Linked DNA regions of Homo sapiens. The protein of the gene in region 4 interacts with the protein of the main gene of each other region in a biochemical or structural test. Each region holds a gene or a part of one and is shown on either strand. Other genes may lie near its edges. The genes, in order: MAPK8IP2, MAPK8IP3, ELK1 and MAPK10.

Evidence for each region.
Region 1: the proteins of MAPK10 (region 4) and MAPK8IP2 form a complex in vitro, tested with the Homo sapiens proteins (one study listed by BioGRID).
Region 2: the proteins of MAPK10 (region 4) and MAPK8IP3 form a complex in vitro, tested with the Homo sapiens proteins (3 studies listed by BioGRID, with this or other methods).
Region 3: of the proteins of MAPK10 (region 4) and ELK1, one has a biochemical effect on the other in vitro, tested with the Homo sapiens proteins (one study listed by BioGRID).

What each region holds. Positions count from the first base shown.
Region 1 is NC_000022.11:50,603,777-50,610,798, reverse strand, and holds part of MAPK8IP2 (C-Jun-amino-terminal kinase-interacting protein 2), read right to left. Parts: intron 6,962-7,022; coding exon of another isoform or gene 6,959-6,961; coding exon 5,735-6,958; intron 5,432-5,734; coding exon 5,356-5,431; intron 5,238-5,355; coding exon 5,065-5,237; intron 4,975-5,064; coding exon 4,865-4,974; intron 4,142-4,864; coding exon 4,034-4,141; intron 3,879-4,033; coding exon 3,808-3,878; intron 588-3,807; coding exon 489-587; intron 93-488; coding exon 20-92; 3' UTR 1-19. UniProt on the Homo sapiens protein: The JNK-interacting protein (JIP) group of scaffold proteins selectively mediates JNK signaling by aggregating specific components of the MAPK cascade to form a functional JNK signaling module.
Region 2 is NC_000016.10:1,709,181-1,716,202, reverse strand, and holds part of MAPK8IP3 (C-Jun-amino-terminal kinase-interacting protein 3), read right to left. Parts: intron 2,675-7,022; exon of another isoform or gene 2,416-2,674; intron 2,202-2,415; exon of another isoform or gene 2,012-2,201; intron 1-2,011.
Region 3 is NC_000023.11:47,647,552-47,655,466, forward strand, and holds the start of ELK1 (ETS domain-containing protein Elk-1), read right to left. Parts: upstream 3,013-7,915; 5' UTR 2,872-3,012; intron 2,476-2,871; 5' UTR 2,370-2,475; intron 1-2,369. Other genes in the region: protein UXT, read right to left, coding at 4,291-4,344, 4,530-4,593. UniProt on the Homo sapiens protein: Transcription factor that binds to purine-rich DNA sequences. Forms a ternary complex with SRF and the ETS and SRF motifs of the serum response element (SRE) on the promoter region of immediate early genes such as FOS and IER2.
Region 4 is NC_000004.12:86,350,035-86,357,056, reverse strand, and holds part of MAPK10 (mitogen-activated protein kinase 10), read left to right. Parts: intron 1-2,412; 5' UTR 2,413-2,527; intron 2,528-7,022. UniProt on the Homo sapiens protein: Serine/threonine-protein kinase involved in various processes such as neuronal proliferation, differentiation, migration and programmed cell death.

The DNA.
Region 1 (7,022 bases), on a different chromosome or scaffold from region 4:
AGACAGAGCGGTGGGCAGGCTACTCCAGGTAGATGTCCTCCGTGGGGCAGGCGTACGCCAGGTGCTCTTGGTAGTACTCCAGGAAGGCGCGGCTGGGGAAAGACGGTCCTCCACCAGCCACTCAGGGCCGGTCCTCAACCCCCAAACTGCCTTCCACAGAGCCTCTGAGCTCTCCCTCCTTCCTCCCTCTGCAGCCATCCATAACCCCCCACCCAGGCATGGCCATGTCACCCCCAAGTGTGACCCTCAGCTCTCCTGGCCCAGCAATTCTACCCCTGCCAGAGTGCCTGGGCCATGTGTCTGTGCCTGTTCCCACCCCATGCCCAGCACCCCAAACTGTCACCCACCACTGCCCTCTCTACACAGCACATCTGGTTCTCCTTCCCCAGACCTCCCCTGCCAGGCTCCTGCCCCCACCTGCTCACCTCCGCTCCCCACCTCCGTAACCCTGCACCCATTCTGCACCCACACCCTGGGGCCCCACTCACCCCACACTCTGCGCCACCGGCCTCATGGACTCCTGGGAGACAAAGACGTGGCAGGCGAAGCGGCTCAGCAGGGGGTGTTTGGTGATGAAGCCGAAATAGCTGCGGGCAAGTCAGTGTGGAGGGCACGTCAGAGCCCTGGCCCAGCCTTGGCCACCCCACAAATGATGTAGAGAGAAGAGGCAGGAACAAAGGGCTTGGGGAGAGGGTAAGGGACAGGAGTGTGGGGGTCGCACAATTTCAAGATCTGAAGTTGTCTTTTTTTGGTTTCAGCCCAAGCACAGGGCTGGGCACCTACCAAGAGTTCACGCTCTGAGTTAATTCCATGATGACCAGGGGCGTCCACTCTCCCTTCTCTGAGCCGGTGCTGCTACCCTCTGTGGCCCTATTCAGGGCCTGCCCCAGGACCACAGAGCAAGGCCTCTGCCTGGCTACTGGAGACCATATCTCCTGCCAACTCAGGCCTCCTCCTGCGGGCCTAGCAGACTGACAGCCCCTTGCCCAGCTCCGAGGTGGGGCTGGACGTTACCCCTGGTCTGTAAAACCCTCTTCCGGTCTACCCCTCGCTCCCACTGGAAAGCAGCTCCTTGCGGGGCCTCGCTCATGGAGTCACTGCCCAGCTCCTCCACCCAGACATTAGCAAAAATCAAAAATCGTCGTCCAGAGGGAGAGGCAGGCAGAGTTCTGCAGCAGGACGCTGCCCCACCCCCACCCCTGAAACTGGCCGACCCGTCCATTCCCCCATGGCTTCGGGGCTTTGCGATTCCACCAAATGGGAAGCCACATGATGGTCTGCTTGCCAGGACAGTGTGTGCACGCTGTCCACAGACAGAGCACAGGGCCCGCCTCAAATGCCGCGTTCAAGTCATGATGGTAATAAGCGCCGACCCACAGATCTGGCTTCCTGCATTACTCAGGCACCATCCTCTGCCCTTTCCATTAACTCACAGAAGCCTCACAACAGCCCTCTGAGGTAGGGCCCTGATGGAGAGCTAGGCACAGAGGTTCAGGAGCTTGCCCAGGACACACAGGCAGGATGGGCAGCCCTGGGAGAAAAGGCTACAGTCTGTGATCCCAACACCAGACATCCTAATGCCAGATCCCAACACAGCACACCCCACGCTCTCCTGACCTACCACCACCGCCATGAAGAAACGAGTTCATCGTTCACCTCACACGGTTTCGTCCGTGCCTCCTCGTGGCAAGGGACCGGGGACGGGGGGTCTGGGGTGACAAATATTAGGAAGGTCTGGGCCAGGGCAGCAGCTCCTCCACCTCCTCCCACACCCCTGCCACATCTTGACTCCAAACCCCAAACTCGACTGACCACCTTCCTCTCACGAAATTCTAGCTGGGGCCCTGTCCAGCCTGAGACCTGAGCTTCACCCAGTTTCCTTCTGATGAGAAATTTGGGTCATTCTTCCTCTCCTGGCAGCGTCCGCTGTCCCAGTGACCCCAGAGCTGTCCCCACTGTCTGGTCTGCGCCCCGTCCGCTGTCCCAGTGACCCCAGAGCTGGCCCCACCGTCTGGTCTGCGCCCCGTCCGCTGTCCCGGTGACCCCAGAGCTGGCCCCACTGTCTGGTCTGCGCCCGTGCCCACTGTCCCACCTCTCCACCCCAGAGCTGTCCCTGCTGTCTGGTCTGCGCCCCTGCCCGCTGTCCCACCTCTCCACCCCAGAGCTGTCCCTGCTGTCTGGTCTGCGCCCCGTTCGCTGTCCCGGTGACCCCAGAGCTGGCCCCACTGTCTGGTCTGCGCCCCTGCCCACTGTCCCACCTCTCCACCCCAGAGCTGGCCCCGCTGTCTGGTCTGCGCCCCTGCCCGCTGTCCCACCTCTCCACCCCAGAGCTGTCCCTGCTGTCTGGTCTGCGCCCCGTTCGCTGTCCTGGTGACCCCAGAGCTGGCCCCACTGTCTGGTCTGCGCCCCTGCCCACTGTCCCACCTTTCCACCCCAGAGCTGGCCCCGCTGTCTGGTCTGCGCCCCTGCCCGCTGTCCCACCTCTCCACCCCAGAGCTGGCCCCGCAGTCTGGTCTGCATCGCTGCCCGCTGTCCCACCTCTCCACCCCACTGAGCAGCGTTTCCGCATGGATCCCATCAGACCATCTCTGCACTCGGCGGGGACAACACAAAAGGGCTCCGCACCTTCCAGCAGGCAGCACCCTCACTCTCGACCACAGGGAGAGTCCACAAGGCCCCCAAGATGCACTGACGTCTGTCCCACGCCTCAGTCCTGGCAGCACCGTGCCCTGCTGTGTCTTGCCTGTCTGTGAGCCTGCTTCCTCCAACTCCCCGCAAGTCCTTTCCAGCCTCTGGCTGGCTCTGCCTCTCTGGTTCCTCCCAGATCTCCTTCCTCTAGGGTGCTGGGACACAGAGGGCAGGGGCCTGTGCCTGGAGGGAAGCTGGCAGCCCCCCTTGGCCTGCTGCTCCTATGCCAGCACCTCCTCCTCCCCTCCTCCCCTCACCCTGCCTGGCCATTCCCCTCTCGTCTCAGTGATCTACCTGCTCTGACCTGGTATCTTCCCTCCAGGTCTCCCTCCTAAACTCCAGACCCATGGGACCAACGGCCACTTCAGTCTCACCGTTTGTGATTGATCCCGCATCCCCTCTCGGTGTGTGGGCTGCAGTACAACCATCCCCCAGGGAGACGTCACCCTGGTCTCTTCCAGGTCACCCTCTACAGCCGGTCAACCTAGGTCCTGCCTGTACTGCCTCTTCAGTGCCTCTTGCATCTGCACACTTGGTCTCAGGACATAGCACCTGTATAACCTCAGCAGCCCCCAGGTCCCCTGTGTCACCTCCTTCCATTAGGAGCCTTCTATGGCCTCATTACCAGCAAGATTAAGTACAGCTCCTTGGCATAATCAAAAGGGTCCAGGTCTTCCCCGGCATTTCTAGCTGCTCCCCTTACACGCGGGCCCCAGAGCCTATATAGCCCCCGACCAGTGCATCCCACACCCTTGGCTCAGCTAGACCCCACCAGGAAGATCCACTTCCCCACCGCTGTCACCTGCTGTGTTTCCAGGCTGGCCATCCTGAGCCCCAGGCCCACTCAGGCGTCCTCTGCACCCACACAGGCTTCTCACATCCTTCGCCCGTGTGCCTCTCTCCACCCAGACTGGATGCAAGCCTGTCTGACCCACGCCTCCTGAGTCCAGCTCAGAGCAGGCGCCACTGCAGGCTCAGCTCACAGAGCTAAGTGGGTGCAGGTGGAGCTCTCAGGGCTGGGCACGGGCAGCCCTCAGGGTCTGTGGGGACTCAGGGGGCGGTTGGACTCTCAGGGTTTGTGGGGGCGGTTGGGGGACTCGGGGACGGTCAGACTCTCACCAGCTGTTGCGGGGATGGCAGCCGCAGAAGGAGATGTTCTTCATCTGGAAGAAATGGCTGCAGCGCTGGAACTAGAGCAGAGGTGGGCAGAAGTCCCTGTGTCAAAGGAGGCCTGGCGCCACCCCTGCCTCCCACCTACTGGACACCCCTGCCAGCCTGGCCCCGTCGGACTCCGTGGCCTAACCCTATCCCCCAGTCCCCGGTCCCCAGTCCCCCACACTCCCACCTCGGGCCCTCCTCCGCTCAGACTCAGCTTGACCCCCCGAAGAGAGATCTCGAGGTCACAGGAGGCAGGAGGGCGCAGGTGGACGGTCAGTTTCCGGGCAGTGGCAATCTACAGAAGAAGTTGGGGGAGAAGAGGGTCTTGAGGAGCCCACAAGGGCCTTTCTTTCCCCTTGGTGGGACTACGCCTCTGCTCCTTTTAGCTTATGTTTGAGGACACACATGCTGAGGACCCTGAGATGCAATTCTGGAAGACATAAGGGGTGTGGCCTTGGCCACTCCTCAGGCTCAGGAGGAGCAATCGCCTCTCTGCAGTCAGCTTGCTTCATCTTCCTTCTGCTCCTCCAGGCAGGCTGCTGCGCTTGGCTCAGGAGCCAGGAACAGAGACCTCACCCGCCCTGGGCTGCTCTGCCCTGCTCCCTACTGCCCCCCAGCCTCAGCCTCAGTACTGGTGCCTGGGCAGGTGCTCACTAAACGTCCACTGAGTGAGTGGATGAGTAGAGGGCTCCCAGGGAAGGGGCTGTGAGGGCTGGTCTTGATTCCAGATGGGAAGAGGAAGGGCTGATGGCAGTCGGGGCCACCTGGAAGATCTGTGGCCCAGAGACCCAGAGGTGATGAGGGACAGCTGCTGTGCTCTGCCCTAGACTCACCTGCTCAGGCCTCTGAACCAGGGCCTGGGGTACCCACCCCGAGCTCCCCCTGCAGCATCCCCCAGACCCTCCCTGGAGGAAATCAGACCTCAGACCTTGGAGCCTCAAGCCCTGTGCCAGCCTGCAGTGCTGGTGTGGCCGCCAAGCGGACCCTCAGCCTGCACTTGCCCGGCCTCCACACTGACCTTCTGCATGGCTGCACACAGGATGCCGTTGCCCTGGTGGCAGGGCACCTCCACGGAGCCCAGGAACTGCACGTCAAAGCGCTCCACCCAGCAGGGGCTCCGCTTACTCCCTGGGGAGCGGGGCACAGAGGGCCCAGGTCAGGCAGGGGCACAGGGGAGGATCTGGGGTGAAAAGCCTCCCCTCGGGGTTGGGACCTCACCCAGCAGGTCCTTGGCAGGGCCGGGCACCGCATGGGCGTAGAAGGCAGGAAACACACCGCGCTCCCCCGTGCGCATGTTGAAGCCACGGAACCAGAAGTCGTCCTCCTCGGCCTCCACCAACACAGGGTCATCCACATCCAGCTCCAGCTCGTCTGGATGCCGCGGGATGAACCTGCCGTTGGGGGAGAGGTCACTGGGGAGGGGGGCGGGATTGACGGTCGTGTCCACTGGCGTTCCGTGATGGCAGGGACTGAGGCTGGGGCCACCGCCAGCAAGGAGGGAGGCCGTACCTGAACACAGCCCGGTGAGTCTGCTCTCGCTCCTCGCCGTTGACCAGACAGGAGAAAAGGCCAAAGGACTCGGTGCCTGGGAGACCCGGCAGGACAGAGGCGGGGGAGACAGGGAGACAGAGTCAGAGTAGTGCTTAGAGGCCTGGCCTTGGGCAGAGGCCAAGTCCCCTCCACAGTCCGGTGTAGGTGTCCTACGAGCGGGAAGGAGCTGAGGCAGAGCAGGCCACCTCATGCCATGTCCTGGGTGGGAGAGGGCACCCAGCCCTGACCACAGCCAGACCCTCAGGTGGCCCTGGGCACTGTGGGGGACCCTGGGACTGGGGCCAGGGAGTCTGCACCTTCCTCTGGGCCACCCCCCTTTTCCCCACCTCTCACTCACTGGAGGACCGAGATGTGCTGTTGACGAAGACATTGAGGAACTTCTTGGAGAAAGTGAGGTCAGGGCTGTCCGGCGAGGTGTCCCCCGAGACCTGACCGCCGCCTAGCAGCGCCGCGCCCGCCTCCTCCTCGCTGGCCTCCCCGCCGCTGTCCTCTTCGCTGTCGTGGCCCAGCCCAGCACAGCGCCGCAGGCTCACCAGCTCCAGCTGCGTGTGCTCATCCACCACCAGCGTGTACTTGACCGCGTCGTACACCAGCGACGCGTCCCGCGGCGCCGAGGGGCCCGTGCCCCTGCCCCCGGGGGACCCCGCACTGTCCTCGGCATCCTCCTCTTCCTCGTCGTCCTCTTCGTCCTCCTCCTCGGAGCAGGCGGCGGAGCAGGCTCGTCCCGGGCGGGCGGCGCGGCCGGGCGCGGCCCACAGCGGCGTGATGGTGTCACGCGTGGGGTTGCTGAGGAATAGGCAGGGCCCGGGCTGCGCGGGGCCGGGTCGAGGCGCGGCGGGCGCGGGCGGCGGCGGCGCGCACAGCGTCTCCATGTCCACCAGCTCCACGCCGCCGGGCCCCGCGGCCGCCTCGGGGTCCTGGGAGTCCTGGGCGGCCCCGCCGGCCGGCGACACGGGCTCCCCGGGCGGGCGCGGCGCAGGAGACAGGCACTGGCCGGGGCAGCGGATGGGCGAGGAGCCCTCGGAGATCATGCGGCTCACCAGGTTGCTGAGCAGCCAGGGCGAGTCCGCGTCCTCGCTGAGGTCCGGCTCCGACTCCGACCCCGACTCGTACTCGCTGTTGGTGTCGTCGGGGCCCACGGGCAGGAAGGCGGGGCGGCGCGGGGGTTCGCGCGGGGGCTCCGGCTCCGAGGCGGGCGACGAGGCCTCCTCGATGGAGTTGGTGAGGTGCGAGGAGCGGCCGCTGCTGCTGCTTCCGCCATCGCTGCTCAGCTCCAGCTCCGTCTCCGAGATGGACGAGATCATGCGCCCCAGGCGCGCGCCGCCCGCGTCCTCCGAGTCGGAGCCGGGCGAGGACAGCTCCTGGCTGCTGCGACGTCCCCCGCGGCCGCCGCTCGAGCGGCTTCTCAGGTCAGCCTCGATGCCGGGATCTGAGGAGGGCGAAGTCCCCCCTGGCGCAGGGGGTTCCGCAGGCCGGTTCCCTTCGCAGTCGCAACCCGGGCGCACTGGCGACTGCGCCCCGCCGGGCCCGGTGTCCGTGGCAGGGAGGGGGCCCGGGAGCTCTGCTGGGCAGGGAGGTGGGGTCACCCTCTCTGCACCACCCAGGCCTCTTCCAGCAGCCAGTCC
Region 2 (7,022 bases), on a different chromosome or scaffold from region 4:
CGCAGTGACTGACTTTTAATGTCCAATATAAAATCAAGATGACAGTATTCTGGACTCAGAATGTCAGAGCAATGGCCAGGAAAGTTCTTTCACAGGGCGATCAACAGGCTTTTGGTAACTTTCACAACCCATGGACACTTTCCTGCTGAGTAAAGTAATACATTAAATCCAAACCTCGGCCGGTGCAGTGGCTCCCGCCTGAAATCCCAGCACTTTGGGAGGCTGAGGTGGGCAGATCACGTGAGGTCAGGAGTTCAAGACCAGCCTAGCGAACATGGTGAAACCCCATCTCTACTAAAAATACAAAAAATCAGCTGGGTGTGGTGGTGGGCGCCTGTGATCCCAGGTACTCAGGAGGCTGAGGCAGAATCGCTTGAACCCGGGAGGCAGAGCTTGCAGTGAGTAGAGATCACGCCATTGCACTCCAGCCTAGGCGACAGAGTGAGACTCCATCTCAAAAAAAAAAAAAATCCAAACCTCTCCTCTCATACGTTTGTTAGGCCAGGCTCACCAGCGAGAAACAATTCAGCTCTGGCTGGTTGGTTAGAAACGAATCTTGACACGAATCAAAGATCTCGTTCTTGTGCAATACCGATCAATTTATTTCCTTCCCTGGGAATGAGGGTGTAGTATGAATTTCCAAAGGAAAAACGCTCATTTTTGGTCTTTTATCTTAAGCAGGCAGACAGGTGCCGGGCACGTGCCTGGCAGATGCCCTTCATGGCTAGTTCCCAGGTACGGGCAGGGACCTCGCATGGCTGTGGTTACCCTGGGCTGGCAGGGGGCAGTCAGAGCTCTTTCCATTTCCCACAATTGCCTGGCCACCTAGGTCTAAAATGCAGAGAGAGGACGTGCAGGGGGTGGCTCTGGAGTTACAAAGCTGCCCCTGAAGCCTGCTGGACGGGACACGGGTCGAGGGAAGGACATTTCTCCATTCAGGTATTACGTGTGGGGCTGAGAGAGCTGGCCACTAGCTCGGGACTCCAAAAACCAGGTTGAAAAGCAAGGCTTCCTCACGTTCTGTGAAAGGGATGGCTGGGTTCAGTGTCCACGTAAAACAAATCCCAACTGGTTGAATACGAACTGATTTCAAGAATGGGTAAGACAGATGGGAAATAGATATATATATATTTCCCATCTGTCTTACTAGTACATATACATTTGTATTGGGAAATATATATATAAATTTATATGGTTGGTACCAGCGGAAGAAAAATGAAGATAAAACCAAAACCTCAAGTTAAGTGTCCCATCCTATGAAACATCTCCCTGGGAAAAATTATTCTCAAGTAAACTTTTATTCTCTGGTGCATTCTTAGGAGTTTACATTGGCTTCTGAAACTTCCTAATCAGCCCCAACCTCCGACTCCCTCTGGTTCCACTGAACGAGAGGCCTGCTAACCGTGCCTCAGTTCACTCTTCTCAGTAGCCAAAGGGTCCCTGCTCTCAAAACATGAATGCTCTAACCCGAGGCAGGGACATAGAGACACACGTGTGCAAGGGCCCACTGGGACTGTGCGTATATCTGGGAATTCATTTCCTGGGGAGAAGGAAAGGTGATGGGCAGGCTGGCTGAGGAAAGGTTAGGGAACAGGAGCCCCAAACTCCCCAGAGGCCTGGGGAGGAAGGGGCCCCCCGAAACTTTAACAAAAGGCAAGTTTTGAATCTGGTTGTTGATAACAAGAATTGAAATGTCCTAGACCCTGTGTGAGAAACGCACCACACGGAGGAGAGGTCTTGAGGAAAGGCCCTGTCGCGTTTCACGTGGCACGCCCTGGATCTCTTGCCGTAACAGTGGCTCAAAAGAAAATGCACCAGAGTAATGATGCTGTGGGCTCTAAGGGTCTCCGCAAAGACGCACCCCCCTCATAAGCGGATTCTAGTCTCTGGGTTTCACTGCCAGCCTGCCCCAGAGCAGTGCTTGGCCCAACACCCTGCCAACGGGGTGAGCGGGCTTACAAACCGCTCATGCGTGAAGGTTACGTAAAAACAAGCCGCCCAGCTCCCCTGCAGGCAGGCGGATGGACAAACGGCACTGCTGGGACCCTGCTTGGCCATGGGGGAAGGACACACACAGCCTGGGTGAGTCCCCGAATCACTGTACCGAGTGGAAGATGTCAGAGGAAACCACGTACGCACTGCAGGAGGCCATTATGCAAAGCTCTAGAAGATGCAAATTAACCTACAGTGACTGAAGGCAGGTCAGTGGTTACCTGGGGACAGGTGGGGCAAGGAGGGGTCGGAGGGGGATTACATAGGACACAGGGAACTCTGGGGTCCGGGCGTCTACGCTGCTTGGACTGCAGGGATGGCTTCTGGTGTTTATACGTATTTCAAAACTCATCAAATTGTACTCTTTAAGTATGTACAGTTCAGTGTATGTCAATGATACTGCAATAAAATTGTTACCCACAGAAAGAAAACAAAAAGCAGCCCAAGGCGAAAAAGTCGATCCTGTGCCCTGAGCACAGGCAGTCCTGAGGTGCGAGCGGTTTCCCACCAGGCTCTTCTTGGCCTTTCGAGAACTTCAGCCCCTCTCTGCTGTTTCCTGTTGCTGGCATCCACTTTCCCATCTCACAATATTTTCTCCTGTCTGGTCTCCTGTATCTGAAACCCACTGCTACGGGATCTCCCCTCTTTCTGGAAAATGTTCATTAAACAGGAAACAAACCCACCCTTTAAGCATCTTCCTTTCTTGCATGAAGCTGAGTAACTCACCATCTGCCCTTGCTTCCAGGCAGCTCAGCTAGACTGCCCACAGCCACACTGTCCAGTATGGAAGCCCTGGCCACATGTTTACATTAATTAAAATAAAACACAGCCGGGCATGGTGGCACGAGCCTGTAGTCCCAGCTATTCGGGAGGCTGAGATGGGAGGATTGCTTCGGTCCAGAAGTTTGAGACCAGCCTGGGCAACGTGGCGAGACCTCATCTCCGAAACAAGTAAATACAACTAAAAATCCAGTTCCTCAGTTCCATGAGTCATGCCTAAAATGCTCAACGGCCCTATGTGGCCAGCAGCTACTGAAGTGGACAGCACCAAATACAACATTTCCATCATCCCAGAACGTTCTGTCAGAAAGGCTGCTCCAAAGAGACAGTCCTTGACCTTCCGGAACTGCACAGTTTGGTGAGATGTGTGCAGAGACAGAGGAAAGCCGGCTTCCCTTTATCCACACACACAGATGGCCAGCATCTCCGGGTGTGCCGAGAAAAGGAAACAACAGGCTCAGGCTGAATGAACCAAAGGGTGCCGGCCCCTTGTTGGCAGGGAGCAGCTTAACTTGCGGAAGCCGGGAGAGAGGCCTGGTGGGGGCCCAGCTCCCCAGGCAGGGGCGGCAGAGTGGGTGATGGGGGCTTCTCTGCAGGTGCACTGCGGAGGCAGACACCAGCGAATCCGGCAGAGACGGGAACTAGCCAGATAAACCCCGAGGGAGGGGTGGGGGCAGGTGGTCTAGGAGGCAGGAACTGCAGGTCTGCAGAATGGGGGGCAGCCAGAAGACCAGAGGCAGATGAGGCTGGTGAGAGGTGGGCCCAGTGGGGGGCCACCTGGGGAAGACAGCCTCACTCTGTCCACCCAGTGTCCTGGCCCACCTTGTCACTCAGATCCCCTCATGTTATCACCACCTGAGATGTCCAGTCTGCCCCAGGAGAGCAATCAGCTAATCCCCCTGCCTGGAATTCACCCTAGCACTCAGAGACCAGATATGCTTTGTGAGGGTTCTCTGGGCTGGCAAAGTGGCGGCGGTGGGAGTGGCCGGGAGACCCTGGGATGGTGGTGACTGGAAGCAGAAGGCAGCAAAGGAGATGAAAAGTGGGGACATTAAAGAACTCCTGAGGCTGGCCGGGCGCGATGGCTCATGCCTGTAATCCCAGCACTTTGGGAGGCCGAGATGGGTGGATCACGAGGTCAGCAGATCGAGACCATCCTGGCTAACACGGTGAAACCCCATCTCTACTAAAAATACAAAAAATTAGCCGGGCGTGTTGGCGGGCACCTGTAGTCTCAGCTACTCGGGAGGCTGAGGCAGAAGAATGGCATAAACCTGGGAGGTGGAGCTTGCAGTGAGCCGAGATTGCGCCACTGTACTCCAGCATGGGTGACAGAGCGAGACTCCATCTCAAAAAAGAAAAAAAAAAAAAAAAAAAAAGAACTCCTGAGGCCAAAAGAACACCAGGACCTAGTGGCGGCTAGATACTTGGGGTGACAAGGGGAGCTCGGGACCTCAGTTTTCTTTTTTTTTCTTTTTTTTTTTTTTTGAGACGGAGTCTCCCTCAATTGCCCAGGCTGGAGTGCAGTAGCGTTGCAATCTCGGCTCACTGCAAGCTCTACCTCCTGTGTTCAAGCGATTCTCCTGCTTCAGCCTTCCAAGTAGCTGGGAGTACAGGTGTGCATCACCATGCCCAGCTAATTTTTGTATTTTTAGTAGAGACGGGGTTTCACCATATTGGCCAGGCTGGTCTCGAACTCCTTACCTCATGATCCACCCGCCTCGGCCTTTCAAAGTGTTGGGATTACGGGCGTGAGCCACTGCGCCCAGCGTTGGGACCCCAACTTTCAACAGGGCAAAGGAAAACAAGTCCGGAGAGCCGGCACCCCATGCAGCTCCTGGGCAAGCTTCTGTAGTGATTTTCATGCACTAACAGCTCATCCTCCAGCCCTGGTAATAAATGGGAACCTGGGAAAGGGGCCCATCCAAAAATCTTGTGCCCCTCACCTGATGCCCATCTGGCACAGATTAAGGATCTAGGAGGCTCTGCATGCCATGGGTCTTCCTGCTGAGGCCTGAGGACATGCTCCATATCTGGTCCCCAGGGCCCATGAGCCAGACTGAGGCACAGCTGCAAAGTGACTGAACTGTGTTGTCGCAATGGTCAAGGTCAATAAGAGCAGAGAACGAGGGGCCACCGCAGAACACAGGACACAACAAGGACACAGGGACCCCTGAGCCCCTTACACAGCCAGAGAAAGCAGCGTGGGAAGACGCCTGCACTTGGGAAGCTGGGTGAGGAGTGTTAATTCTGCAACCTTTCTGTACATATTTCAAAATGGTTTTTAAAAACGTAAAAATGAAACAGATATTTCATTTAGAAATCTTAATTTTGGAAGAACTGACTTCTCTCAGCTCTCGGCCCTGTCTGACTGCTGCCAGCGTGGCCCGGGGGCTCCCGCAGCGGAGCGGCAGAGGGGCAGGCTGCGCCCAGCGGCCTCCGGGCCACTTCGGCCTCTGTCCCGTGTTCTCTCTGGCTGGCAGGTACCTCCTTCTCCATGGTTCCTACATGTATTTGCTCCACTTTTTAGGGAGACTGCTGTACTCCTGGTGAGTGGTACAGCTACACCAGGCCAGCTTTCAGAGGCACCTAGGAAAGGCAGCTCTGGCAGCCCCATCTTGATAGCTTCATTTAAAAAACATTTTTTAAAAAACTGTTCTTAATATCATAACATGGCAGGAAAAGAAATCGCATACTCTGGCCAAGCAGTGGTGGATTTACTATTTGTCATATGAAAAACAAAAATAAAAATTTCTGATTCAGCATCTTAATTCATTGATGGAAAAGACTTCCTGCAGATCGTCTGGCGCAGAGGAGAAAAAAAGAAGGAAAAATGGCAGACTGATCATCTCTGTAGAGCGGGATTATGGTGTTTGTTTTCTCCAGCTGAATCCTACCCAAATAGTCTATGAAATGGATGACATTTATTTATTTATTTTTATCTATTTATTTATTTTGAGACAGAGTCTCACTCTTGTTGCCCAGGCTGGAGTGCAGTGGTATGATCTTGGTTCACCACAACATCTGCCTCCTGGGTTCAAGTGATTCTCCTGCCTCAGCCTCCCGAGTGCTGGGACTACAGGGGCCTGCCGCCACACCTGGCTAATTTTTTTTTCTTTTTTTTTTCTTTAGTAGAGACAGGGTTTCGCCAGGTTCGCCAGGCTGGTCTCAAACTCCTGACCTGAGATGAGGAGGTCAGGAGTTCAATGTCAAATGTTGGGAGGCTGAGGTGGGAGGATTGCTTGAGTCCAGGAGTTTGAGACCAGCCTGGGCAACATAGCGTGACCTCATCTCTCGCCTGCCTCAGCCTCCCAAAGTGCTGGGATTACACATGTGAGAGTCGCTGCGCCTGGCCGGTAACTTTTATTTAACTCGGAAAAAATAAGTTTTGGATAAAACTGTCTTCCCTTGCATCCTTTCCTTACATAGCATCAAATGCCGAATGATCAGCAAACATCACCATCTGGGCTTGTTGAGAGAACACCCACTCCAGCTGCCTGCCATGAGCCTGGGGGGTGTTACCAGCAGCAGTTTCTTTAGGGTTAAGAAGATTTTAAGGCAAATAATGACCACTAATATTCACATGTCATCTCTCACACCTTATTTTTCCTCTTGTAAGCTAAGCAGTTGATCACTATGGGAGAAGGGCTCTTTGCTGCCCGGGTAAGCCCGGCAAACGTGGTGGCTCTGCCCGGCCCTCCTCTGGAGCTGCACCGGACGGTGCGTGTGGAGGCAGCATCTGCTCCTTGCCAGCCCCCACCCCGTTCAGCTGCTGTTTCCCACCTTCTTCTTTTCCACTGGGAAATAACTTGAGGGTTTTAAAAAACTTTGTATCAGAGCCTGCACAACCAGAAACTGCACTGTCTGGTAGGCGGCTAGCAATGTCCGGTGCCTGCCGTCCACGGCGGCCCTGAGAACCCGTCAAGGGTTCTGCCCTGACTCTGCTACATCTGCCTGCCCACAATTCTCCAGGCAACCAACAGCCAGTGATGGTGCTTGGATCTTGAGATGAAACTGACTTGCAAAGTCCGCGGCCACTGCAGCCCAGCGAGGGGAAGAGGATGGACCCAGGGTGTGTGGCTCCTGAGGGCCGGGCTGACACTCAGGCTGGGGTCTGCAGACTCCACGGCTTGGGTCAGTCTCTCGGGAGACCCCACCCTCTCTAGCTCCTGTCACTCTCATACACTCAGCTGCCTGTTATCAGAGCACATTGGGAGTCACTGTGGTAATGACCGGCAAGAAGATGGGAA
Region 3 (7,915 bases), on a different chromosome or scaffold from region 4:
TGGTACTCACAAGGGGCTCAGTAAAGGTTGGTTGCAGGAACAGTCCCAACTAATTAGCTCTCATATCCCTTCTTCTTCCTCATGTGACCCCTACACTGGTGTCTCAAATTATCTTTTTCCCATTTATTCATGGGATAAATTCTTATTGAGCATCTGCTGTTTACCTGGTACATTTTCAGTTGCTGGAGACATAGCGGTGAATGAGCAGACAAAAACTGAGTCCTCATGGGACTCACATTCTAATGAGGAGAGACAGACAACAAACAAGTAACCCACACAGTGTGTCAGACAGTGATAAAGGGCAACGGGACAAATCAGGGACCTGGCTTGAGCCCTGCTGGGTGTGCAGCTTCAGATGGTCAGGGAGGGGTTGACTTTTTTTGTTTTTACAAGTAGCATTGTTAGGAACTTCTTTTTTATACATGTGCCTTTGTATAGTATATTCTAAGTACCATGGTGTGACAATCAACCTTTAATGAAATAACACTACCCAGGTACAACAAAATCAAATCACTCTTAGAAACATCTTTTACGCCTGTGCCTTTAAGAGAGTGTATTACACACACCACAGTGGTTGTTTTTTGGGTTTTTTTTTTTCAGAAAAAGGGATCTCGCTATATTGCCCAGGCTGGCCTGGAACTCCTGGGCTCAAGCTATCCTCCCACCTCAGCCTCCCGAGTAGCTGGGACTATAAGTGCACACCCCTGTGCCCAGCTACACACCACAGTTTTGTGAACACATTCTTTCAATGCAACAACACAGTCCTTATTCACATATACAACTAGCACTCTTAGAAACAGCTTTTATACCTATGCCTTTACAGAGCATATTACGTACCTCAGTCTTGTGAACACATCCTTTTGAAAAGGAGGAAAACCCTTACTCATATATAAACTGGCATTCTTAGAAACATCTTTCATACATGTATCTTTTTATACTGCATTCCACACACCACAGTGTGGTAAACATCCTTTGGGGGTTGGTATTTGAACAGAGTGCTGAAAGGAACCATGCAGAGATCTGGGGGTGGTGTTCAAGGCACAAAGAACAGCCAATGCAAAGGCCCTGAGGCTGGCCCATGCCTGCTATGTTTGAGGAGCTGTGTGGTGGAACCAGTGTGGTTGGAGCACAGTAAGGGGGTGGGAAGGTATAGGCGGTAATGCTAGAAAGGTTACTTGTTTTACCATTAATTCACAGTTAATATTTATTTACACTGGAAGGGATTCTAGTTCTGATCCCCCATTTCACAAATGAAGAAAAAGGCACAGAGAGGAAGTGGTTAAATCACTCATCTAAGGTCACACAGCTGCTGGGATTGGGGGGTGGGTGGGTGCTGAGAGAAGGTGAGGAATGAAGACTGCTCTGCAGGCAGAGGGAACAGCAAGAACAAAAGCTTGGAGGTGAGAACTAATTTGGTTTTTAAGGACTGAGGCCTCACGTGGGGTGGGATGAGATCTAAGAGGGGAGCCTCAAAAATTATCCTGTGTCCTGAGTACTTCCTGGGCCACCTTTGAGTAAGGAATTTAACCTCCCTATGGCCCAATTCCCTCACTACCTATCTCATGGGGTTGTGGTGAGGATTAAAGGAACTCATTCATATGAAACACTCTGCCTGATATACGGCAGGTGCTCAATAAACGCTAGCTCCTATTGGCATTACTATCATCACTGGCGCTAATGTATTCACTTATTGTAGTGAGGCAGAACGTCTTTGTGGTTACGAGTGTGACCAGGCTGACCCACTATTAAGAGGTGGAGGACAGGGAAGGCCGTACAGTGCTCCATCACAAGGAAAAGAGGATCAGCACGTTCTCTTCTGGGAAGGGAAAAAAAAAGAGAAGGAAATTGAAAGTACACGGCCGATCTTCCCCCAATTACAAAGCACTGGACTCACGGGAGGGTATGCGGGGGACTGTGCAAGCATACAGGGGTGTGGGGGAGGAAGGCCAATGAACAGATCCACTGCAAAGGGAGGGGTGATGAGGCTCATCGTCTGAGGGGAAGGGGAGCAGAAAACCTTACAGACTCCTGCACCACAGTGAGAGGAGAGAAAAGCCATCACACAGACTGATTCAAAGCAGAGAGGGAAAAGGCTATGGACTGAGCTACTGAAAATAGGGAGATGTAAAGCACTAAACTAACCCACTATTAAAAAGGAGAGAACCCCAAGCGCTAGAGCGACAGTCTACGAAAAAGAGGAGACAGGGCAATGGACTGATAGCTAAAGGGACGTGAATCCAAACATGAAGACTGATCCACTATAAAATGGTGGTGGTGGTGGTGGGGGGGGGGGGTGGTTTTGAAAAAAGCCATGGACTGATGCATTGGGGGACTGGAGGAGGCAGGAATACAAACTCAGGTAGACTCACTGTTAAAGAGGGATGCGGAGGAGTGCGGCGCCACGGATTGATTCGCTACGATGTACAGGAAGGGTGGAATAAATAAGGCCACGGACGGGTCTCCTGAAAGTTGAGGCTAGGAGAAATCCAAACACTCAGATACACCTACTATTAAGGGGGCTGAACACTGTCACAGGCTAGCTCCCTATAAGTGGGGGTGGGTGGGGGGCGGGTGGGGGTAGGGGTAGGGGGAAAGCCTATGGACGAGTCCACCCTAAGTTGGCGTGGGGAAAAACATAAGCACGCAGACCGATCCATTATACAACGGGAGGGGGAGGTTAGGCCACGGTCAGATCCACTATAAGGGACGAAGGGCTTGAGCAATGCCACACGCAGGTCCACCAGCCGTGGTGGTGGCGGCGGGGAGTCGAACACCAGCAGGCCACCGGCCAAGCCACATCCTCTGCGCGGGGGCGGGAAGGATACGTGGGGTCACGGACTGGGCCCTCCACCCTCCAGGCCCAGAGCTCACCTGTGTGTAGCGTGGCGGTGGCGTTGGCAATGTTGGCAGCTCCGGGGGGCGGGGGCTCCATACGCGGCCCCACCGCCCCCCAGGCCTGGGTTCCGAGGCGGCGGTGGAGGTGGTGGTGGCGGTGGCGGCGGCAGCACCTAGAAGCCGCCCCTGCGTTTCCCTACAGCTCACGTGGGCCCGAGGAGGAGGAGCCCAATGTCCCGCCGCTCGCTGATTGGCCAAAGCGCTATTAATCGGCCGCAAGGCCTCGAGGGGTTGGGGGACGGGCCCTTCCCTACAGAGCTGTGCCGTGATTGGCGTAAGGGGAAATGATGGAACGCTCACGGCCCCTGGAGTCCCGAGGAGGCGCGTTCGGCCTTCACGGTGCTCCACGCCGATTGGCTCAAGGACTGACGGACTGTGAGCAACTGAAAAGGCTCGGGGCCTGTGTCGGGGGGGCGGGGGTCTGCCTCACACTGATTGGCTTACATGGGATTGATGGAAGACAGCCCCCAAGGACGGGGGTGGGTGGCCCTGTTTTTCTCTGATTGGCGGACGAGGGACTTCTAGACCCCTGCCAAAACACCAAGGGGGCGGTGTCGCACGCCATGCTGCTCAGCGGAAGCAGGGCTTGTATAGAAATGGGCGTAGCAGCCGGCGGGAGTGGGTCGGACTGGGCTCCGCGTAGGCGGGCAGGGCAGCTCTACGGTTAGACAAGACCATAGAGCTGGGTAAAGACGAATTTAGAACACAGCGGAGGTAGGAGGGCAGGATGGCTGTCAGGCACACGAAAGAGCATTGAGTGGCAGAAACGAAATGCTTTCAGAGGGCAGGGTTGAACTGCGGCCAGAGTTAAAAAGGGGAGGAACCTGGCTCTGCATTGATTGGCGGTGGCTGGACTCAACCTAGAATAGGGGCCCGACTAGGGAGAGCGGGATCCAGGTCTGTGCCCATTGGAAGCTGGAACACTTACAAGCAGGGGCTAAGACAAGGTAGGGCTGAGTTAGGGTTTGGGTGTAATTTGGGGTACCTGGGGAATGATTGGGTGTGTGAAAGCGTAAACCTTAGGGCCCTTTGATTGTTGTGGGAATGAACAAACCTCCACCATGAATTGGCCCATTCTCTATGGCAATTCAAAGGGTGGCGTCTAGGAAAAGGAATGGAAGAAAGGGTGAGGTGGGGGGCCCAGGTTGCCAAGATGACAGAAGAGAGGGCAGTGCATAAGGTCAACTGGCAAATACTGCCAGGCAACAGGCTGGAGGCAGGACTGCTGGGGCATTTTGGAGGTTCCACAGAGAGACTGGATCTCTGGGTCTCTCAGTAACTTTGTGCCCTAGGAACAGGCCCCCGTGGCAACTAGCAGGGTTTATGGGGAAAAAGAAGGGCCATGTGACTCAAAGGCATTCAGGCTCTTTAATGTCTGAGGATGGGGGGAAGAAGTCAATGGTGAGGCTTCTCTGGGAAATTCTGCAGGCCTTGTAGTTCTCTAAGCCCCTGAAAAAGAGGACAGAAGAGATTGAACAAAGACTGGGTCTGGGTTACGCCCCCAGGCTTGCTCTGACCTCCCTCCCTTGACTCCAGTTTAGAGGGAAAGATGGTCCTTCCCTTCTTTCGCTCTCTTCCTTCTTCAGGTCACCACCCTAAACACAGAGTCTGGTAGTGGGGTGAGCTGCTCTCACCTCTAGCAACATGTGGATATGGGCTTTGATATTCATGGAGTCCTTGGTGAGGCTGTTGCTGAGCCTAGAGAAAAGAAACAAGAAAGGGCAAAATGGGCCCCACATGATTATGATGACCCTTCCTTATCACTTCAAGATCTACTTATATCCTGGATGATTTCCACCTGGCTCATTCCTATGTGGAAATGCCAAGCCACCATCTGGTTTTCACTGATTCAAAGATTATTAAATGCCTACTGTATGCCAGGCAATTTTAGGCACTGGGAGATAGCAGCAAACACAACAAACAAAACTCCCGGCCTGATGGACTTCAAATTCTTGTAAAGAAAGACATAACAAAAAACCAATGGAATAAAAGCTATGTGTCAGATGGTTCTAACTACAATAACAAAAATTAAAAATGAGAGACAATAAGGAGTACAGGAGTGGGGGGCTGCAATTTTAAAGAGGGCTCAGGGATGGCTTCACGGAGAAGCATTTGAGTAAAGACTTAAAGACAGTGAATTTTGAGTAGTGTGGCTATATGGAGGATGTGTTCCACACACAAGGGGCAGCAAACACAAAGGCACTGAGGTGGGAGTGTGCCTGGCATGTTTGAGGTGCAGCAAAGAGGCCACTCTGGCTGGAGAAGAATAAGTGAAGGGGGAATGTAAGAGGTGAGGTCAGAGAGGTAATGAGGGAGACAAACTGTGTGAAGCCTACAAGGCCATGGTAAGGACCCTGGCTTTGACCTTAAGTGAGATGGGAGCCAAGGGAAGGTTGCAGCAGAGGAAGGAGGTTGAATTACATGAACCAGTCAGTTGACTCCTTTTCTCTAAGCCAGTTTGGATCAGATCTCGCCCAAAAGAATCCTAATTGATATAAAGGGTCAAGGAAGGCCTTTCTCAAGAATGAAGAATGAGAAGGAATCGAAGAATGCCTAATGGTTAAGCAGTAGGAAGGCCTTTTCCACAAAAAGGACAAGAGGCAACAAAGAGCTGTTTGAGAAGCAGTGAGGTCAGAGTGTTAGAAATTGAGTGGGGAGGGAAAGTGGCCTAAGACAAGGTCCAAGAGATAGGAAGAGGTTAGATCACACAGGGTCTTAATATAATAAGGAATGTGGATTTTATTGTGCTGTCAATGTAGGAGTCAGTTTGAGGGGTAAATGAAACTAAATACTGTTGGAAAAGCAGAGAGCAATAAGATAGGATGTTAAATTGGAAAAAAAAGTAGTATGAACCCATGTATATACCAATATCTCCCACATTTTTATTTCTAGCCCAGAACTCTCTCCTGAACTTGACTAGTTTTAATGACATCTTCTAAAAATCCACTTCAGTGTTTAATAAGTGCCTCATACTTAACAGGTTCCAGACTAAATTCCTGACCTTCCCCTCCAAATCTACTCCTCCCCTAACTTCTCCATCTCAGATAATGGCAACTCCATCCCTCCAGTTGCTCAGCCAAAAACCTGGGCTCCTCTCTCTCACACTTCACATCCAGTCAGCCATTCTTCTTAAAATCATGACTGTTCCATTGCAGGTAATGCTTCTGATCTCCATGATATGCTTTCTCCATAGCACTGTCAACATCTGACATACTACATCATTCATTTGTTTATTGTTTGTCTCCCCTGACTAGAATGTCAGCTGTATGAGGGCAGATTTTGTTTTTTTTTGTTTCCTGCTCTATCCCCAGGGACCAGAACAGTGTGTGGCACAGAGGAGGCACCCAACGTATGTTGAATGAATAAGTGACTACTCCATTAAAAGGAACCTGAGGTTGGCTGAGTGTATGTTTAGGGACAGGAAATAAATGAAGTATGGGTGTTGTTGCCAGAGAGCAAGAATACTTTCAAGAATATTCTGGGGGTAATGCTTAAAGAACAGAAGAATGAACCTGATCAGCTCCTAAGGGACAATTTTAACATCAAAAAAGAGAACAAAATTAGTTAATGGTGTAAGCTTACCTTATGAAAACCTATGAGTTCAACACTTTAAAAGGGAGAAAAATACAGAGTTCACCAAATGCTAGCTGTAACACAAAAGGGATATGTTTATTACTGCTGATTTATTTTTATTTGCTATGTGAGAAGCAAATTACTACTGATTTAGTATGTAAGGCAGTGTGAATAGTCATATGGTTATGCTTTTTTTTTTTTTTTTGAGATGGAGTCTCACTGTGTCGCCCAGGCTGGAGTGCAGTGGCGTGATCTCGGCTCACTGCAACCTCCACCCTCCGAGTTCAAGCGATTCTCCTGCCTCAGCCTCCTAAGTAGCTGGGATTACAGGCGCCTGCCACCGTTCCCGGCTAATTTTTTGTATTTTTAGTAGAGACGGGGTTTCACTATCTTGGACAGGCTGGTCTTGAACTCCTGACCTCGTGATCCACCCACCTCGGCCTCCCAAAGTGCTGGGATTACAGGTGTGAGCCACCGCGCCCGGCCGTTAGGCTGTTTCTTCTATAATTACATGTCTATTCATGAGATGTGGATGTGTACTCCTTTCTGTGTCATCAGGAAAGAATATAGAGATTTCATCCCTTCCACTTCCCAAACAAAGAAATATACTAAGAACAGGAAGAACTGACACTTTTGATCACATAAAATGACCAGAAAGTTAGTTCAAAGTATATCCCAAGTAACCAAATATTTTTAAAGGACAGCCAGCTACATAGACTCAAATCTTCATCTCTTAGAAAAATTAAACTTCTAGACAGTCCTACTAATTACAATAAAGCAGTAAGACTCAACCATATTTTTCATCACACTAACAGACCAGGTCAGTACATCAAAAAGACCAGGCAAGGGGGCAGGCACTGACAATTTAAATACTTCATTTTGGGGAAGTACGTGGAGTCTCAAAACATTAAAATCTATTTGATAGGCTCAGGAATCCTGTGACATAACAAGGAAAGCCTTCTTATACAAACTAGACTTTAGCTGGGCGCGGTAGCTCACACCTGCAATCCCAGCACTTAGGGAGGCTGAGGTGGGCAGATCATCTGAGGTCGGAGTTTGAGACCAGCCTGGCCAACATGGCAAAACCCTGTCTCTACTAAAAATACAAAAATTAGTCGGGAGTGGTGGTGGGTGCCTGTAGTCCCAGCTACTTGGGAGGCTGAGGCAGGAGAATCCCTTAAGCCCAGGAGGCAGAGGTTGCAGTGAGCCAAGATCGCACCACTGCACTCCAGCCTGGGCGACAAGAGCAAAATTCCGTCTCAAAAACAAAGTGGACTTGGTCTAAATGACCACCAGTTCAGAATTGTGTTGACCATGAAAGCAGGCCGTTTAATTAAACTATTTGCTAATTGGTCTGAACACCAAGAATCAGAAATCTCAGCAGGTCTGAGGTTCTTTTGGGTCCACTAGCACCTGCTAGTCCTTCCCATGGCTGGAAAGGTTTGAA
Region 4 (7,022 bases):
ACAGTCTCTTTTAAGCTTTTGGTTGGACATTGCAACAATCATGCAGAAAGAGGCACGGAAGTGTCCAGTAGTGACAAGAATGGAGTACAATGCTCTATTTGCTGCAGGACTGCTGAGTGCCTTCCTCCTACCACACATGCATCTATTATTGCACCTTCTTCTGAGGACCAAGGACTTGTGGAAAAAGTTGGGCCTATAGACTAGTAGGGGAGATGCTTACTGGTAAAGAAGAACAGAATCCATTTGCTTCTTTGGCATATTGGATATATTTATTGCATTACATAAGCCTGAGATGAGACACTGTACTGCTGATTCAGATAAAAAGATCATGCTGCATATTGATTGTTTAAAAAATGTAACTTAGAATTGGAGCCCATCTTTTCAGAAACCTGTACGTGTTTGCAGAGTGAAGTTGTAAGGTTTTGACTCAAGATTTTTCAGTTTGAGTACATTTTATCCTCATGAACCGATCAAGGCAAAGAAGGGGAAAATACAAAACCTGTGTTTTGCATATCTTTTGTTTTCTGTATTTAATAGGGAGAAGCTGTATTTCTTATTGTGAATCTTGGTAGAAACTCTTAAGAGGAGACATCAGGTAATATTGAAAATCACTAAATATAAACATTTTAGGTTTAAAAAGTAGACCTCACACATATACTATTTCTGGTAAAGGATTTTCTAGTTTATTTGATGTTTTGGATCCATATCAAGCCACTATGGCTTTTCTTACAGTTCTTATCTCTGGTGACTATGAGATGTAAAATCCTTGAGGCTTATGGAAATAATGCTAGTAGGAATGGAAATTGAAGTTTTCAATGGAAAAAGAAATGAATACAGTCTCCTGAGAAGCATCCCTAACCACAGCTGCTCTAAAACCCTGCATGGTGTGCAGGTTTAAGGCAAAGCTTCCCTATAAGGCAATTGGGCATTTGCAGTGACCTGCACAGTAATAAACAGGATTTTCACTACCTTGTGTTTGTACACGTGTGTGTGTGTGTGTGTGTGTGTGTGTGAAGAAAAACAAAAACAAAAACAGCAGTGACTTTAAAGTTCTAGAAATTCATCTTAGTGACTTGTCTTCATAGAAATAAAACTGACTCCTGTTTGTCTGTGTTAACCTGCCTGGGTGCCCTATGTGCTTTCTGAAAATGGATTGCTTAAAGCAATTGTCCTCTTCTTATACATTGGAAATAGGATCTGAAAGCATTGATAGTGAAGGAAAGCTCTTAGGTTAGGTCTGTTTATTTGGCAATGTTTATTCAGTGTTTGTAGGCGGAAGCTCCAGCACAGCATTTATATAATATAGTAATTGCCTATTCTTCTATTACCTGTATTCTCTACTAAGGTTTAATCCCCATCAGGGACTGACTTTTTCTGTTTGGCACACAATAGGGACACACCAAATATTCATTGAATGAATATCTCTCATGTACTGAGTTCTCTGCTAAGTGCTATGGTAGAAAAAATTGGGAAACTGTAACACAGTTTCTGCCATTTGGAACCTATACTCATTTGGGAAGATGAGGCTAAATAACAATAAAGATGGTATAAAATCAAGGGCCCATATTAGTGTTTTGATAATGAGTGCAATAGAAATTCAGAGGAGAAAGGAATTTACCTCCTCTGAAGTGATGGTAGGTGACAATGGGGCTACACTGGGGTGTTGGGGTGAGGTGGTGGGATAGTGAGAGGGTGGTAGTCCTAGGAGTAATTGTGAGCACCTGGGCAGGAAAGAAACTCTTACTTGGGGTAAAGAGGAGGCCTATTTTGGGTATGATGACCATATTTTCCAAACTAGAAATAAAAACTTATGGTTTGACATTGGGTAGAATGTTGCAGACTGCCACATATTCTGAAGAATCTTGTCTAATATAATGTTGGGAAGTAACAGGCTATAATGGTGAAAAAGTAGGTTAGTAACTAGAAGAACATAAATACAGGTCTCTTCAGATGAGCTCCAGCTTAGGTTTACTTTCTTTTGCATACTTCAGAGGTTTTCAAAATTCTCCTCCTTTATTGGTACCTATGTAACCATTGTTCCAATGAAATCTTGTATGAAAAGCAGAATATGTAAATCTATGTAATAGTGGAGCTGTCCCAGTTGAGGATGAGTGGGGTGCCTTGTATTAGAAAACCAAATTCATATCACAAGACTAATTATATTAACTGAAATAAGAATTACTAATTTAGTTTATGCTCAGATATTAAAATAGTTGTTCTGGTATTATAACATCAAAGTTCTTGTGCTTGCAATAAATGATGAATAGAGATAATTACCTTGAGATATTTTCTTTCCTCTGCCTACACTCACCCACCCAGTAACCAACTGTCTTTGATGTCAGCTTTTTGGTTTTCTAAATACAAATTTAAATCTTAAAATCAAACTCATCTGTTTTTTGGCTTTGCTTTCAGGCTAGTGTGAGAAACACCAACAGCAGGCCCATCTCAGATCTTCACTATGGCAACTTATGCAAGAAACTGTTGAATTAGACCCGTTTCCTATAGATGAGAAACCATACAAGCTGTGGTGAGTTGCCAATTTAAAAATATTCCTTAGCATGAAAACTAGGATCTATATAGCCAATTTAAATATTGCATATGGTTTTGTACATGGAGCTGGAGAAATACTGCTCCAAATAATTTCGACTACAGAAGTGAAAATCAATAGAACAGAAGTTTAATAGTTGGTGTGGTACTACTAATACCACATACAGTAGTGAAAAGTCTTGAGGTGCATGGGTGCAGCATATAACACCATGATACTACCACCATGGATGATACCTGCAATTAACATTTTCATGTGGCAGAGTAACAGTTGGGTACCATTATTTTTAAGTGACTTTTATTATTTGCAACATTGTACTATATTTTACAGATTCATCTCCTTTAGTAGAAAAATTGGTTCTGAGCTAAATTATGGTTTTCTTTCAGGAACACACACACACACACACACAATTTAGCTCTTCTGAAATAAGAGAAGAGAAATCACAGTTTTATAAAACTCAATTCATGGGCATTTTAGCCTACAAATCCTTTTGCTTAACAAAGCAATGTTAAAAATAGATACAGTTGCTCTGCCTAGTTGGAATGACTTTAAAACTTATTACTTTATAAAAATATCAGCACACACAGGTAGAATGTCTTTTTAAATCAAATACTTGATGCTTCATAGTCACCAAAGTCAATAATCAATAGATTCCAGCAGAGATGAACGAGTTATAATCTGTCAAATAACATCTTTGAGAACTAGAGTATGACTGTGGTGCTTATAAGACTCCAAAAGAAGCTATTTTGAGCTAGTGATCAATATCTTTCTTTCATTTGCCTAGTGGCTTATATAACTGTAGATAGGTAGGCTGCCCTGTGAATTAATGCACAGCCTATGACTGCGGAAGACTGATGAAATTAATCCTAGAGTTATTTCATATAGTGAATTTATAAAACAATTCATAAAAAACAATCCATCTACCATTATATTGAGAAAGCAGATCTAATAGCATCACTATACTGTGCTTAATTAACATGTATTCAATGAGCGTTATAAATAATTTTATGCAATTGCCAATAACAAACTATTTTTGACCTAAAATAAGGGCAATTTTATATGGTTGAAACTAATATATTATGTGTTACTCCCAGTGATGTAGAAAGCATACCATGTTCTCTCCATTCTGAATATTAATTCATTAATCAAACTCTTATTGAGAATCTGTGATGTAGGTAGAATGTTTAGCTTTTGGGGCAGATAAAAGACAGTCCTTGCTTTAAAGGAGCCCTCAGTCTAAAGAGTGGGGTACTTACAATAAAATGTGCTTATTAATGGAGGTAGTTGTGTTCTAAAGAGTGTGGCACTTACAAAGTGCTATTACATGGGTAGGTCTAGAGTGCCAAAGGAAGTGCATCAGAGGAGACTCTACCACGGATGTGGTAGAGATTAGTCAAGGAAGACTTCCCAGAGGAAGGGATCTTTTGGTGGACTATTAAGCACAGTGAAAGGATAGCCAGAGGAAGGGAGGATGCAGTGCACAGTGGGAACATTTTTTAACAGACCCAGAAGCCTGAGAGAGCATGATTGTGTGGGAATACTAGGTATCATTTACTATGCTGAAGCAGAAATGGTAGTGGCAGAGATAAAGTTGAAGAGGGATACAAGACATGTGCCATGAAGGATCTCTTAGACAAAATTAAGGAGTTTGGATTTTGTTTCAAAGTGAAGAGCTTTTGAAAGATTTTAAATAGGAGATTGACATAATCAGTTTATTTTTTAATTGTGAAATATACCATACGCATAGAAGAGTGTATAAAACAAATACTGGTTAAAGAATAATTATAAATCAAACATCATGTAAACAAATCAAACAACATAAAACAAATCAAGTAAATCAAACATGATGTAATAGACTCCCAGCAAACCCCTATGTGTCCCTTTCAGATCACATACTTTTCCTTCCCCACCATAGGTAACCGCTAGCTACTATCCCACCTTTTGTCATGCACATTACCTTGCTTTTCTTTGTAGGTTTTCCATCTATCTGTGCATCTCTAGGCTATGAATCTTAGTTCTGCCTATGCTTCAGCTCCATGTATTTGGAGTTACAGCATGTATACTCTCAATCACCTGATTATTCTGCTAACATTGTGAGATTCTTTCATGTTCATGCATGTAGTTTATTCATGTAAATTGTTGTATAGTATTCTATTGTATCAATATGCCAATATTTACTTATCTAGTCTATTGTTGTTGAACATTTGGATTAAATCTATTTTACTTAATGCTAGTATAAATATAAATATAATATCATTTTTATGTTTATATATATTAGTTCTCATAGTTTCTGATATTTACCGTTTTCTAGGATAAATAGCAAGGGAAGGAACTGCTGAGTTTTGGGGTATGTGCGCCTTTAATTTTACTAAATAATTCCAAAATATTTTCCCCAATCAGTTGCATCAATTTACATTCCCAGCAGCAGTATATGAGAAACTCTGCATTCTCACCAACACTTGATTTACAAGTTCTTAAATTTTGCTAATCAGGTAGATACATAATTGTACTCATAAAAGTATTAATTTGCATTTTGCTGATTACTAATGAAGAAGAGCATCTTTCCATTTTTTGTTTTTTGGTAATTTGATTTTCGTCTTTTGTGAAGTACCTGCTCAAATCTTTTTGAGATGTGTCTTTCAAAATGATAACTAACACTTATTGAGTTCTCACTGTGTAATAGGCACTATAGTAAGTACTTTACAAATAGTTCATCTTCCTAGTATCCCTGTAATTTAGAGGTAAGGAAACCAAGGTTTAGAGAGGTTAAATCAGTTGCTGACAATCACATAGTTAAGGAACAGTGGACTTAGCATTCAAGCCCAAGTCTTTCTGACTCCAGAATTCTTCAGTTTCTCGGTGTTTGGAAGGGGATTTGGTTGGAACCAGGGAGAACATCTAAGGTGCTATTGCAGGAATCCAGTTAAAAAAATAAGTGCATAAACCAAAGAATTGCTAGTAGGGCATATGTAACAAACAACTGGACTTGGTAATGAATGTGGTGGGCAAACAAGAGGAAGGATTTTTAAAGTCTCAAGTTTTAATACCTGTCGGCTAGGTAGATTCAATATTTGTCATAAAATGTGTGTGTGTGTGTGTGTGTGTGTGTGTGTGTTTGTGTATACACACTGTATATATATATACACACACACATTGTATGACTAATGTTGTAATATATTGTCATCCTTTGTACATATATTGTACAATACATTGTCATATATATATTGCGTGTGTGTGTGTGTATATATATATATATAAAATACAGATATTGTGGTAGGTACTAATAATTCATTTTATAAAGTCCAGGTATTGTAGGTACTAAGAGTACATTTTGTGAATCTACAATTCAATGAGATGAATTTAGTTCACAGGCTCATAAATTTTAGGGTTTAAAGCAATGACACTGTTCATTTGGGTCAAATCTTCACTTTTTTTTAAAGATATGGAAGCAACTGCTAAGGAGGGTAAGTGGCTTGTCCAAGATCACATGTTTCTAAGTGTCAGGTTAAGAATAGATACGATGCCTGCAAAAAAATGCAAAGAAATAACAACCACCTGATTTTTAAATTAACGAGTGATGACACAATCAACCTATTCTATTTCCTAACCATTTCTCAGACAAGTCCTTTTTCATCTAAATCTGTTGTTACTGCCATAATTTAGGTCCTCATCATCATCTTTGGCAGGTTTATTTAAGTAGCCTAGCATACTATCTTCTTGTCCATTATTCTACCAGTGAAGCCACCAGACTTGTTATTTGATTTGCAGTTGTTACCGTATAATTGCCCTACTTAAAGAATTTTCAATATACTCTGTCATCCATGTAATAACTTCCCTTTTCCTTAAGACATGCCATACTTCTGGCCAGGTGGGTGGCTCAAGCCTTTGTAATCCCAGCACTTTGGGAGGTCAAGGCTGGTGGATCAGCTGAGGTCAGGAGTTTGAGACCAGCCTGGCCAACATGGTGAAACCCTGTCTCTACTAAAAATACAAAAATTGGCCAGACGTGGTGGCTCACGCCTGTAATCCCAGCACTTTGGGAGGCCGAGGTGGGCGGATCACGAGGTCAGGAGATCAAGACCATCCTGGCTAACACGGTGAAACCCCATCTCTACTAAAAATAGAAAAAATTAGCTGGGCATGGTGGCGGGTTCCTGTAGTCCCAGCTACTTGAGAGGCTGAGGCAGGAGAATCACTTGAACCTGGGAGGCAGAGGTTGCAGTGAGCCGCGATCGTGCCACTGCACTCCAGCCTGGGCGACAGAGTGAGACTCCGTCTCAAAAAAAAAAAAAATTATCTGGACATGGTGGTGGGCACCTGTAATCCTAGCTACTCAGGAGGCTGAGGCAGGAGAATCGCTTGAACCTGGGAGGCAGAGGTTGCATTGAATCGAGATTGCACCACTGTACTCCAACCTGGGCGACAGAGCAAGACTGTCTCGCACACACACAAAACAAAAAATGATATGTCATACTCC